Linked DNA regions of Homo sapiens. The protein of the gene in region 1 interacts with the protein of each later gene in a biochemical or structural test. Each region holds a gene or a part of one and is shown on either strand. Other genes may lie near its edges.

Region 1 (4,247 bases):
GAACAATGGCCAGAACCAGGCCCGGCCAGCTCGGGGGGTGACGGGGGCGGGTGGCTGGGGCAGCGCTGCCGTGTGCAGGGGCCGAGCCCTGCGGGGCCGTGAGCCGGCCCTGCCTTCTGCTTCCTTCCCAGATGTAGCCGCCTGTCCCGGGAGCCTGGACTGTGCCCTGAAGAGGCGGGCAAGGTGTCCTCCTGGTGCACATGCCTGTGGGCCCTGCCTTCAGCCCTTCCAGGAGGACCAGCAAGGGCTCTGTGTGCCCAGGATGCGCCGGCCTCCAGGTACGAGAGCAAAGGGGGAAGTCGATGGGGGGATGTCCCTGCATGAACCTCTCCCTGTAAGAAGCGGCCGGCTGGGCGCGGTGGCTCATGCCTGTAATCCCAGCACTGTGGGAGGCCCAGGCTGTTGGATCTCATGAGGTCAGGAGTTCAAGACCAGCCTGGCCAACATGGTGAAACCCCGTCTCTACTAAAAATACAAAGTAGCCGGGTGTGGTGGCACACACCTGTAGTCCCAGCTACTCAGGAGGCTGAGGCAGGAGAATTGCTTTAACCCGGGAGGCGGAGCTTGCAGTGAGCCGATTCACCACTGCACTCCAGCCTGGGCGACAGTGCGAGACTCTGTCTCAAAAAAAAAAAAAAAAAAAAAGAAGGCCGGGAGCAGTGGCTCACGCCTGTAATCCCAGCACTTTGGGAGGCCGAGGCGGGCACATCATAAGGTCAGGAGATCGAGACCATCCTGGCTAACACGGTGAAACCCCATCTGTACTAAAAATACAAAAACAAAATTAGCCGGGCGTGGCGGCGGGCGCCTGTAGTCCCAGCTACTCGGGAAGCTAAGGCAGGAGAATGGCGTGAACCCGGGAGGCAGAGCTTGCAGTGAGCCGAGATCGCGCCACTGCACTCCAGCCTGGGCGGCAGAGCGAGACTCCGCCTCAAAAAAAAAAAAGCAGCAGCCTGCAGCCTCAATGCCCAGGCCTGTGCCAGGTGGTCTTGGGGCCCCTGGACCTTGTGGGGTGTTGGGTCCAAGGCCTGGGAGATCCTCATTCACTCTCCACGAAGCCTCCCATCCTTTCCAAATGGAGGTGGGCCCAGGCCTGGGGCAGTCAGGCCCTCCCAGGAGAAGGGCTGCACGATGTGAAATGCTGGGATGGCCACGGGAGAGGAAGGGCCCATTCTCCCCGGGCCTGGGCTCTGCAGGGTCTGCCCAGAAGCCCTCCAGGCCCCCACTTCCCCGTCCCCAGGCAGCTTGCTCTTTTCCACCACTCACTGTCCTGTCCGCCTGTTGGCAAATGTTGAAGGGTGCCAGCACTGGCTGGGTGCTGGGGATGCCCCGCTCGCCAGCCTGAGCCGCATCTGTCGGGATGGCCAGTCACTGAGTGACTTCAGGTGTGGTGAGGGCTTTGCTCAGAGGTGCTGGGGGTGGGAGCAGCAGCGGCTTCCTGGAGGAGGTGTTGAGAGGAGCACCGAGAAGTGGCTGTAAGGGTCTGTGTGGATGCACCTCCTGCCAACCTGGGAGCGTCCACCCAGACTGTGCAGCCCACAGTGGGTACCGGTGGAGCCCTGCCACCAGCCCCACCCCTGACAGCTGCCCCCGTTCTCCCAATGACCTGGGGAGGGGTCCCGGGTGCTTGGCTTCCTTCGGCTTCCCCCCACTCCTTGGGGAGTCCCTGCCCCTCTACCCGAGAAGGTGCTTGGAGGTGGGGAAGCAGAAGGGGCTGTGCTGGCCAGCCCTTTATGGACATGGGTTGGGGCGAGAGACCCCACTCCTTCCTCCCCGTGCCCGGTCTTTGGACGTTTCCCTAGCGCCTCCTCCCTTGCCCTGCCTCCACTTTCCGGGAAGCACTGCCCCTCACAGGAAGCGCCCGCGCTGTCACCATGGCAATCTGGGAGGGAGAGGGCCTCCAGGCGTGTACCCAGTCCTCAGGCTCCTGGGAGGAACCTGCCAGAAGCGGGGAGGCCGGGCCTGGGGCTACCTCCTGGACGGACCCCTCCACCTGATGGCCCCTCACCCTCCCCAGGCGGGGGCCGGCCCCAGCCCAGACTGGAAGATGAGATTGACTTCCTGGCCCAGGAGCTTGCCCGGAAGGAGTCTGGACACTCAACTCCGCCCCTACCCAAGGACCGACAGCGGCTCCCGGAGCCTGGTGAGACCCCCGCTTCCCCTGCCCCACGGCCCTGTCCCTAGCCCAGTGCTCTCATTCTAACCTGTCCTCTCTCGCAGCCACCCTGGGCTTCTCGGCACGGGGGCAGGGGCTGGAGCTGGGCCTCCCCTCCACTCCAGGAACCCCCACGCCCACGCCCCACACCTCCCTGGGCTCCCCTGTGTCATCCGACCCGGTGCACATGTCGCCCCTGGAGCCCCGGGGAGGGCAAGGCGACGGCCTCGCCCTTGGTAGGTCTTGGTCGGGGGTGGGCAGGGGCAGCAGGGCGCCCTGCAGAAGGCCGCCCTCACACGCCCCCTCCTGCAGTGCTGATCCTGGCGTTCTGTGTGGCCGGTGCAGCCGCCCTCTCCGTAGCCTCCCTCTGCTGGTGCAGGTGAGCCAGTGGCCGCGGGCAGGGCAGGGAGGGTGCCACACGCTCAGAGGTCTCAGGCCCCACTCCCCACAGGCTGCAGCGTGAGATCCGCCTGACTCAGAAGGCCGACTACGCCACTGCGAAGGCCCCTGGCTCACCTGCAGCTCCCCGGATCTCGGTGTGTGGCCCCCTTCAGCCCTGAGGCTCCCGCCCAACTCTGGCCGCCAACTGACCCTCGCCTCCTCCTTCCCACAGCCTGGGGACCAGCGGCTGGCACAGAGCGCGGAGATGTACCACTACCAGCACCAACGGCAACAGATGCTGTGCCTGGAGCGGTGAGTGGCCGCCCCGGCACTGCCACCCCCACCCACCCACCCCCCATCCCCACCTCCACCTCCATTTCCACCTCCCCTGGCCAACTTTACCCCAGGCCCTGCCACCCTCACCTGCACGCTAACCTTCACCTCCCCCGCCGCCCTGCACCCTCACCTCCCCTGGCCAACTTCACCCTGGGCTGTGCTCCCCTGCCACCCCAGGGCTGAGGTGGGCTGAGTGCCCACTTCCAGACTGGGCCACTGGCACCTCGAGGGCATGGGGAGGACCCAGCGATCCCCCCCCACCCAGGCATAAAGAGCCACCCAAGGAGCTGGACACGGCCTCCTCGGATGAGGAGAATGAGGACGGAGACTTCACGGTGTACGAGTGCCCGGGCCTGGCCCCGGTGAGTGCCTCAGGGTGCAGGGAGGGGCGAACCATCTCCTGGGGTTCCCTCCCAGCAAGTATCCCCCCAGCCCACCCACTGCCCAGCCTGACACCCACATTCGCAGACCGGGGAAATGGAGGTGCGCAACCCTCTGTTCGACCACGCCGCACTGTCCGCGCCCCTGCCGGCCCCCAGCTCACCGCCTGCACTGCCATGACCTGGAGGCAGACAGACGCCCACCTGCTCCCCGACCTCGAGGCCCCCGGGGAGGGGCAGGGCCTGGAGCTTCCCACTAAAAACATGTTTTGATGCTGTGTGCTTTTGGCTGGGCCTCGGGCTCCAGGCCCTGGGACCCCTTGCCAGGGAGACCCCCGAACCTTTGTGCCAGGACACCTCCTGGTCCCCTGCACCTCTCCTGTTCGGTTTAGACCCCCAAACTGGAGGGGGCATGGAGAACCGTAGAGCGCAGGAACGGGTGGGTAATTCTAGAGACAAAAGCCAATTAAAGTCCATTTCAGACCTGCGGCTTCTGCCTGTGTTGCCAGCTTGGGTTAATCTTCCACCGCCTCATCTCCCATTTGGGGCCCTGGTAGACGGACCCCTGAGTGGGGGGCCTGGGGTCTGCTCTTGCACCCCCAGAGGGAGGAGGCCTTTCTGTTCGCTCATTAGGAGGACCTTCCCATCCCGTGGAGCTGGAGGAGAGGCCACGGGATCATCCCCACCCTCCTCAGCCAGGCCTCACCCCTGCAGACCCTTCTACGCAGGTGGGAGAGGGGAAGGGTGTAGTGTAGGGCTGGGCCAGCCCAGGGTTGGCTCTGCGGCCCGGAAGACCCCATCCTGTGTGATAAAGAGGGCTGGAGCAGGTGATAGTCCACACGCACCTGGATGTGGGTGCCCACCACCTCCAGGCAGAAGGAAAACAATGCAGACATTGAGTCTGGGTTTCTCATGGGGACCACGGCCGCCAGGCCCTGCAGCACACGGAGGAGGGATGGCAGGCAGAGGTACCTGTGTGATACCAGCTATGCAGA
Region 2 (7,032 bases), on another chromosome or scaffold:
AACAATCCACCCGCCTTACAGGCGTGAGCCACCGCGCCCGGCCTAGCTAACTCTTTTAAGTAGAGGTGTGACATTTGAGTTTTGAAAAGATGATGTTGGCAGCTTTTGCAGAAGGGAACATCGATAACCAGTTAGGTGTTTTGTTTTTGTTTTTTGAGACGGAGTTTTGCTTGTTGCCCAGGCTAGAGTGCAATGGCGCGACCTCAGCTCACTGTGACCTTGGCCTCCTGGGTTCAAGCAGTTCTTCTCCTCAGCCTCCCAAATAGCTGGGATTACAGGCGCGCCACCACACCCAGCTAATTTTTTGTTAGTAGACACGGGGTTTCACCATGTTGGCCAGGCTTGTCTTGAACTCCTGACCTCAGGGGATCCACCCACCTCGGCCTCCCAAAGTGCTGGGATTACAGGCGTGAGCCGCTGTGCCCAGCCCACCAGTTAGGTTTTTAAAAGCACTGGTACTGCAGTAAAACCACAGGTGTATGTCAAAAGCCTTTATGCTGGGGGAAAGCTGTGCCACTTGGGTTGAAGGAGGCAGGCCTCCAGCTTCTAAGTGCCCTGGGGCCTCTGTAGAGGGCCATGAGGGGCCACAGGATGCAGGGAGCTGGAGCTAGGCCCTGGTAGTCACCATGGAGGAGGAGAAACAAGGACATCCAAGACCTGAGGCTGGAAGGTTCTGGAGAGAACACAAGAGAAAAACAACTCCGGAGCTTCCAACCTCAAGTAGGGCACAGGGAGACAAGCGGGTGGGAAAAGGCCACAAATGGCTCCATGTGAGTGAGGGGCAGAAAGAAGAGGATGAGGTCAGTCCTCTGGGGGTGTCATCTTTGAACAGCAGTTGACAGGCAGTGGGTGTGAAGGTCTATATGGCAAGGAGCTACACACGAGGGAGGAGAGAGGTACTCTGAAAAGTTTGCAGAGTGGGTAGGAAATGACTGTGGAGCAGTGAGGAGAGTGATCAGTGATGGTGTAGTAGTTAGAGAGTGAGTGGTGGTGGACTTGATGGAGAGTGAGTGGTGGTGCTGGAGTGGTGGAGAGTGAGTGGTGATGGTAGATTGGACGGAGAGTGAGTGTGGTAGACTCGGGGACAGTGAGTGGTGATGGTAGATTGGATGGAGAGTGAGTGGTGGTAGGACTGGGGGAGAGAGAGTGGTGATGGTGGTGTAGGTGGAGAGTGAGTGGTGATGGTGGAGTTGGTAGAGTGAGTGTGGTGATGGTGTTGTGGGTGGAGAGTGAGTGATGGTAGTGTTGTGGGTGGACAGTGAGTGGTGATGGTGGTAGACTGGAGGAGAGTGAGTGTGGTGATGGTGTTGTGGGTGGAGAGTGAGTGGCGGTGCTGGAGTGGGTGATGTAGGGTCACAGAAGGAGGAAACAGCCTAGAAGGTGGCTGCCTTTGATGGTCCTTGAGTGGGCCCAGCTGGAGAAATGGTGAGAAGGATTAGGTTTCTGTTGTCTTGCTCAGGGACTTTTTATTTTATTGCACTTATTTGAATTAAAATGGTAAATTCAAATGGAATATTTGTGTTTATACTCTGTTAAGTGGGAGAATGTGGAGAACAGGAGTCAGCTGCCATACGGCCACCTGGCTGGCTCCGGGAACCTGAGGCCTGGTCTTGCCCAGCAGGAGCGCTGGCATAGCATGGATCACTTACAGAAATTTATGATCAAGATTATGGGCTGCTCCTGGCAATATGGGGAGGATTTCCTTGCTGTGGGGACTGTCTGTTTCCATGCCTGGCCCACCCGGTCTGTGATAGCCTCAGGTGCAGTCCTGTCTTAAGTTTGGAGACACCCTGGGAGGTCCGTACAGACTCTTTGAGTTTCTGAACTGTCCTCGAAACATCTCAGGCCCTCCGCCTCAGGGCCTAGGGAGGCTGTCCTCTGGTTCCTGAACAGGGTGGCTCTGACCCGCAGATCTGTGGGCTCCCGTTGCAGGTACCGGTGGTGCTCGGAACCGTCCTCAGATTCAGTCTTGGAAGGTGCTTTGGCACCTCCTTAGAGTCGGACAGACCCTTGTCACGAGTCAGTCCAGCTGCAGGGGCTCAAGTTGTTCTAGAGCTGGGCTGGCAGGGCCCTTGGGTGAGGGAGTGTGGCTTGGCACTGGCATCTCAGCCTGCGGCCAAGTTTCCTGCCTGCCCAGGCAGCATGACCCTTGGTGGGATCAGGCAGAGCTCTGCCTCTCCCCTCCCTACCTCGGAACATCCTGTCGTCACACACGATTGTCCAGTGTCATGAAAGTTTGTAAGTGGGAAGGCAGGCAGATGATGAATTCATCAAACATTACAGGGATGCTTTTGCTGTAAGACTTCGGGATGTAGCCCGTGTGGGGCTGTTTCTGGGGTCCCGTTCGCCTCTCCAAGCTCCTCCTGCCATTGGTAAAGATGCAGGGCATCTGAACTCGCTCTTGGGCTGTGCGGGCACTTGGACCTGGTCAGCTCCCTGTGCAGAGAACGTGGCTGTGGACGTCACTGCCCGGTATTCACGTGCCTTGGTTGTGAAAGCCGTTCTGTGGTGCCTGTTTGTGTCCTGTGAGTTTATGGGGAAATCCTGAAATTGAGAGCTGGGGACCAAGAGAACTGTGTGCGTCCCACCATGGAGGCGTTTGAGTGATGCTGTCACGAGGCTCTGCTAATGCCAAGAGGGGACCAATGAGCTCCTCTAAGGGTCTACCACCAGGTGTCCTTTTACAGACCTGGATGGTGAAGTTCAGGCCTGAAGAGGTGAACCTGATGCAGCAACAAACTGCTGTTTCCTTCAGTGCTTGAAGGAGTGAGTTCTGGGAACAGGATTCAGCGACTCAGGCCTTCTTTTGTCCTCATAAAGAAACAACTTTACATTTGAGGTTAAGAAGGTTGTCAGTTTAGCCCCCTCAGGTTTAAGTGTTGAAGAAATCTATGATGACGTGCTTGTTTTTACAAGAGTCTTTTCATATTTCAGGATTTTTTTTTTCTACATAGGATGAGGTTAGAGAAACTCTGAAGGGATATTAAAAATTAGAAAATTATAGGTTGGGCCGGGCGCAGTGGCTCACGCCTGTAATCCCAGCACTTTGGGAGGCCGAGGCAGGTGGATCACAAGGTCAGGAGATTGAGACCATCCTGGCTAAGAGGGTGAAACCCCTTCTCCACTAAAAATACAAAAAATTAGCCAGGCATGGTGGTGGGCGCCTGTAGTCCCAGCTACTGGGGAGGCTGAGTTAGGAGAATGGCGTGAACTCGGGAGGCGGAGCTTGCAGTGAGCAGAGATCACGCCACTGCACTCCAGCCTGGGCGACAGAGCGAGACTCTGTCTCAAAAAAAAAAAAAAAAAAAAAGAAAAAGAAAATTATAGGTTAATTAAAAGTTTTGCCCCTGCTGGGCACGGTGGCTCATGCCTGTAATCCCGGAGGCCAAGGCGGGTGGATCACCTGAGGTCAGGAGTTCGAGACCAGTCTGGCCAACATGGCAAAACCCTGTCTCTACTAAACATACAGAAATTAGCTGGGCGTGGTGGCGGGCGCCTGTAATCCCAGCTACTCTCGAGGCTGAGAAGGAGAATCGCTTGAACCCGGGAGGCGGAGGTTGCAGTGAGCCGAGATCACGCCATTGCACTCCAGCCTGGGTGACAAGAGCAAGACTTCATCTCAAAAAAAAAAAAAAAGAAAAAAGTTTTGCCCCTAAAACATGCTTTAAAAGAGGTATTATAGGAACATCTGGTATAAAATTCAAAGAATAAAAAAGGACATCTTTTTTCTTACATAATCAGCTCTTTGTTAGCTCTTTACTTTTGGTATTTGGAAGAAATCTCTGGAGTTCGTTGTGTAAGAATTGGAAACCTCACCTTTGGTGCACAGCTCGATTTGCAGTAGAAGTATCAGGTGCTCTTTAGGGGATGTTAAAAACTTTTCACTCTTGGTATTTACATTAAAAAATACTTTGTTGTAGAACAATTAGAAAATCCAGATTTGCAGTTGATATTTAGCTTGACTTACAGTGTGGCTTTCTGCTGTTTGTCATAAGAGACTAGATTTGTCAAGTTTTGCTTAGAGAGGAGGACTGGTAGCAGCAGGTGGCTTAGACTACGTGTGGGGATGGATCTGCGAGGGGAAGGGCAGATGTCAGCGTTGGCTGAATTAGAGGCTGAATTAGGTGACCCCTCATCCCCCAGGTGTCTTACTCAGATGATTCTGGTTGTTCGGGTACTGGCCATGCACTGCTCTCTGTATCTTTGTGTGTAGCCCAAGCCTGGAAAAGCATCCGCCCTTTGTACCTTTTTCCCGACTGGCTGAGATTCCCGCAGCATCCCGACTCCGCTTCAGGGCTCCTGTGAGGACAGGGACTATGGCTTTTAAGTTGTCGCACAGGTCATGGGCACTATTCACATGTGCTGCAGGTAATTTTGAGACTCAAGGATGAAGAGTTATATCTGCCTCTTCCCGTTAGTCTTTTATGTGAATCCTGTTTGTTTGTTTGTTTCGAGACGGAGTTTCGTTCTTGTTGCCCAGGCTGGAGTGCAATGGCACGATCTTGGCTCACCACAACCTCTGTCTCCCGGGTTCAAGCGATTCTCTGACCTCAGCCTCCCAAGTAGCTGGGATTACAGGCATGCGCCACCATACCCTGCTAATTTTTTGTATTTTTAGTAGAGACGGGGTTTCTTCATGTTGCTCAGGCTGGTCTTGAACTCCCGACCTCAGGTGATCCGCCCGCCTTGGCCTCCCAGAGTGCTGGGATTCCAGGCGTGAGCCACCGCGCCTGGCCATGAATCCTGTTTTTCTATGGTCCAGTTTCTAAGGGATTCTGGTCTGATGAATGAAAACCTTGTGTGTCCCCTGTGGCTTTGGGATACAGTATCTTTTAACACAGGTGCTTGCCCTGTGCACCCTGGTCTTCTGTTCATTAACATCGCGTCACTGGGGTCTGAGGAAAAGAGACAGTGTGATCCGCTCCAGTGAATGGGGAAGCAGGAGAGGGTCAGAAACCTGAATGGGTCAGCCCAGAATCCAGCATTGCCAACACATCCCTGGCCCTCCCCTCCTGCCCAGGTGACAGGTGTGGCATATGCTGGTCCTCAGCCCTGCCCAGGAGACAGTTGTGGTGTCTGTGGGTCTTCAGCCCTGCCCAGGTGACAGGTGTGGTGTGTGCTGGTCTTCAGCTGTGCCCAAGAGACAGTTGTGGTGTGCACGGGTCCTCAGCCCTGCCCAGGTGACAGGTGTGCTGTGTGCTGGTCCTCAGCCCTGCCCAGGTGACAGGCGTGCTGTGTGCTGGTTCTCAGCCCTGCCCAGGTGACAGGTGTGCTGTGCACGCGTCCTCAGCTATACACAGGTGTCAGGCGTGATGCGTGTGGGTCCTCAGCCCTGCCCAGGTGACAGGTGTGGTGTGCGCGGGTCCTCAGCCCTGCCCAGGTGACAGGTGTGCTGTGTGTGGGTCCTCAGCCCTGCCCAGGTGACAGGTGTGCTGTGTGTGGGTCCTCACCCTGCCCAGGTGACAGGTGTGCTGTGTGCTGATCCTCAGCCCTGTCCAGGTGACAGGTGTGCTGTGCACGCGTCCTCAGCTATACACAGGTGTCAGGCGTGATGCGTGTGGGTCCTCAGCCCTGTCCAGGTGACAGGTGTGGTGTGCGCAGGTCCTCAGCCCTGCCCAGGTGACAGGTGTGCTGTGTGTGGGTCCTCACCCTGCCCAGGTGACAGGTGTGTGTGCGGGTCCTCAGCCCTGCCCAGGTGACAGGTGTGCTGTGTGCTGATCCTCAGCCCTGTCCAGGTGACAGGTGTGGTGTGCGCGGGTCCTCAGCCGTGCCCAGGTGACAGGTGTGCTGTGTGTGGGTCCTCACCCTGCCCAGGTGACAGGTGTGGTGTGTGCGGGTCCTCAGCCGTGCCCAGGTGACAGGTGTGCTGTGTGTGGGTCCTCACCCTGCCCAGGTGACAGTTGTGCTGTGTGCAGGTCCTCACCCACCCAGGTGACAGGTGTGGTGTACACGGGTCCTCAGCTGTGCCCAGGTGACAGGTGTGGTGTACGTGGGTCCTCAGCCCTGCCCAGGTGATAGGTGTGGTGTGCGCGGGTCCTCAGCCGTGCCCAGGTGACAGGTGTGCTGTGCACGCGTCCTCAGCTATACACAGGTGTCAGGCGTGATGCGTGTGGGTCCTCAGCCCTGCCCAGGTGACAGGTGTGCTGTGTGCTGATCCTCAGCCCTGTCCAGGTGACAGGTGTGGTGTGTGCGGGTCCTCAGCCGTGCCCAGGTGACAGGTGTGCTGTGTGTGGGTCCTCACCCTGCCCAGGTGACAGTTGTGCTGTGTGTGGGTCCTCACCCTGCCCAGGTGACAGTTGTGCTGTGTGCAGGTCCTCACCCACCCAGGTGACAGGTGTGGTGTACACGGGTCCTCAGCCGTGCCCAGGTGACAGGTGTGGTGTACGTGGGTCCTCAGCCCTGCCCAGGTGATAGGTGTGGTGTGCGCGGGTCCTCAGCCGTGCCCAGGTGACAGGTGTGCTGTGTGCAGGTCCTCACCCAGCCAGGTGACAGGTGTGGTGTACACGGGTCCTCAGCCGTGCCCAGGTGACAGGTGTGGTGTACGTGGGTCCTCAGCCCTGTCCAGGTGGCAGGTGTCCTGTGTGTGGGTCCTCACCCTGCCCAGGTGACAGGTGTGCTGTGCACGCGTCCTCAGCTATACACAGGTGTCAGGCGTGATGCGTGTGGGTCCTCAGCCCTGCCCAGGTGACAGGTGTGCTGTGTGCTGATCCTCAGCCCTGCCCAGGTGACAGGTGTGCTGTGTGCTGATCCTCAGCCCTGTCCAGGTGACAGGTATGGTGTGCGCGGGTCCTCAGCCCTGCCCAGGTGACAGGTGTGCTGTGTGTGGGTCCTCTGCCCTGCCCAGGTGATAGGTGTGGTGTGCATGAGTCCTCAGCCCTGCCCAGGTGACAGGTGTCCCGTGTGCTGGTCCTCAGCTGTGCCCAGGCTTGGGCTGTGGGTGCCGCCCGTTCCCAGTGGACATGGAATCCTTGTGTTACTGAGTGACCTGCGTGTGCTGGTTGCTGCACCAGCGGGCTTTTCTGTCGCAGTTGC

What was found.
Region 2: the proteins of NPDC1 (region 1) and TFDP1 form a complex in vitro, tested with the Homo sapiens proteins (one study listed by BioGRID).

Annotation. Positions count from the first base shown.
Region 1 is NC_000009.12:137,038,958-137,043,204, reverse strand, and holds the end of NPDC1 (neural proliferation differentiation and control protein 1 precursor), read left to right. Parts: intron 1-131; coding exon 132-278; intron 279-2,017; coding exon 2,018-2,143; intron 2,144-2,220; coding exon 2,221-2,391; intron 2,392-2,467; coding exon 2,468-2,534; intron 2,535-2,606; coding exon 2,607-2,691; intron 2,692-2,768; coding exon 2,769-2,848; intron 2,849-3,137; coding exon 3,138-3,234; intron 3,235-3,340; coding exon 3,341-3,433; 3' UTR 3,434-3,742; downstream 3,743-4,247. UniProt on the Homo sapiens protein: Suppresses oncogenic transformation in neural and non-neural cells and down-regulates neural cell proliferation. Might be involved in transcriptional regulation.
Region 2 is NC_000013.11:113,587,721-113,594,752, forward strand, and holds part of TFDP1 (transcription factor Dp-1), read left to right. Parts: intron 1-7,032. UniProt on the Homo sapiens protein: Can stimulate E2F-dependent transcription.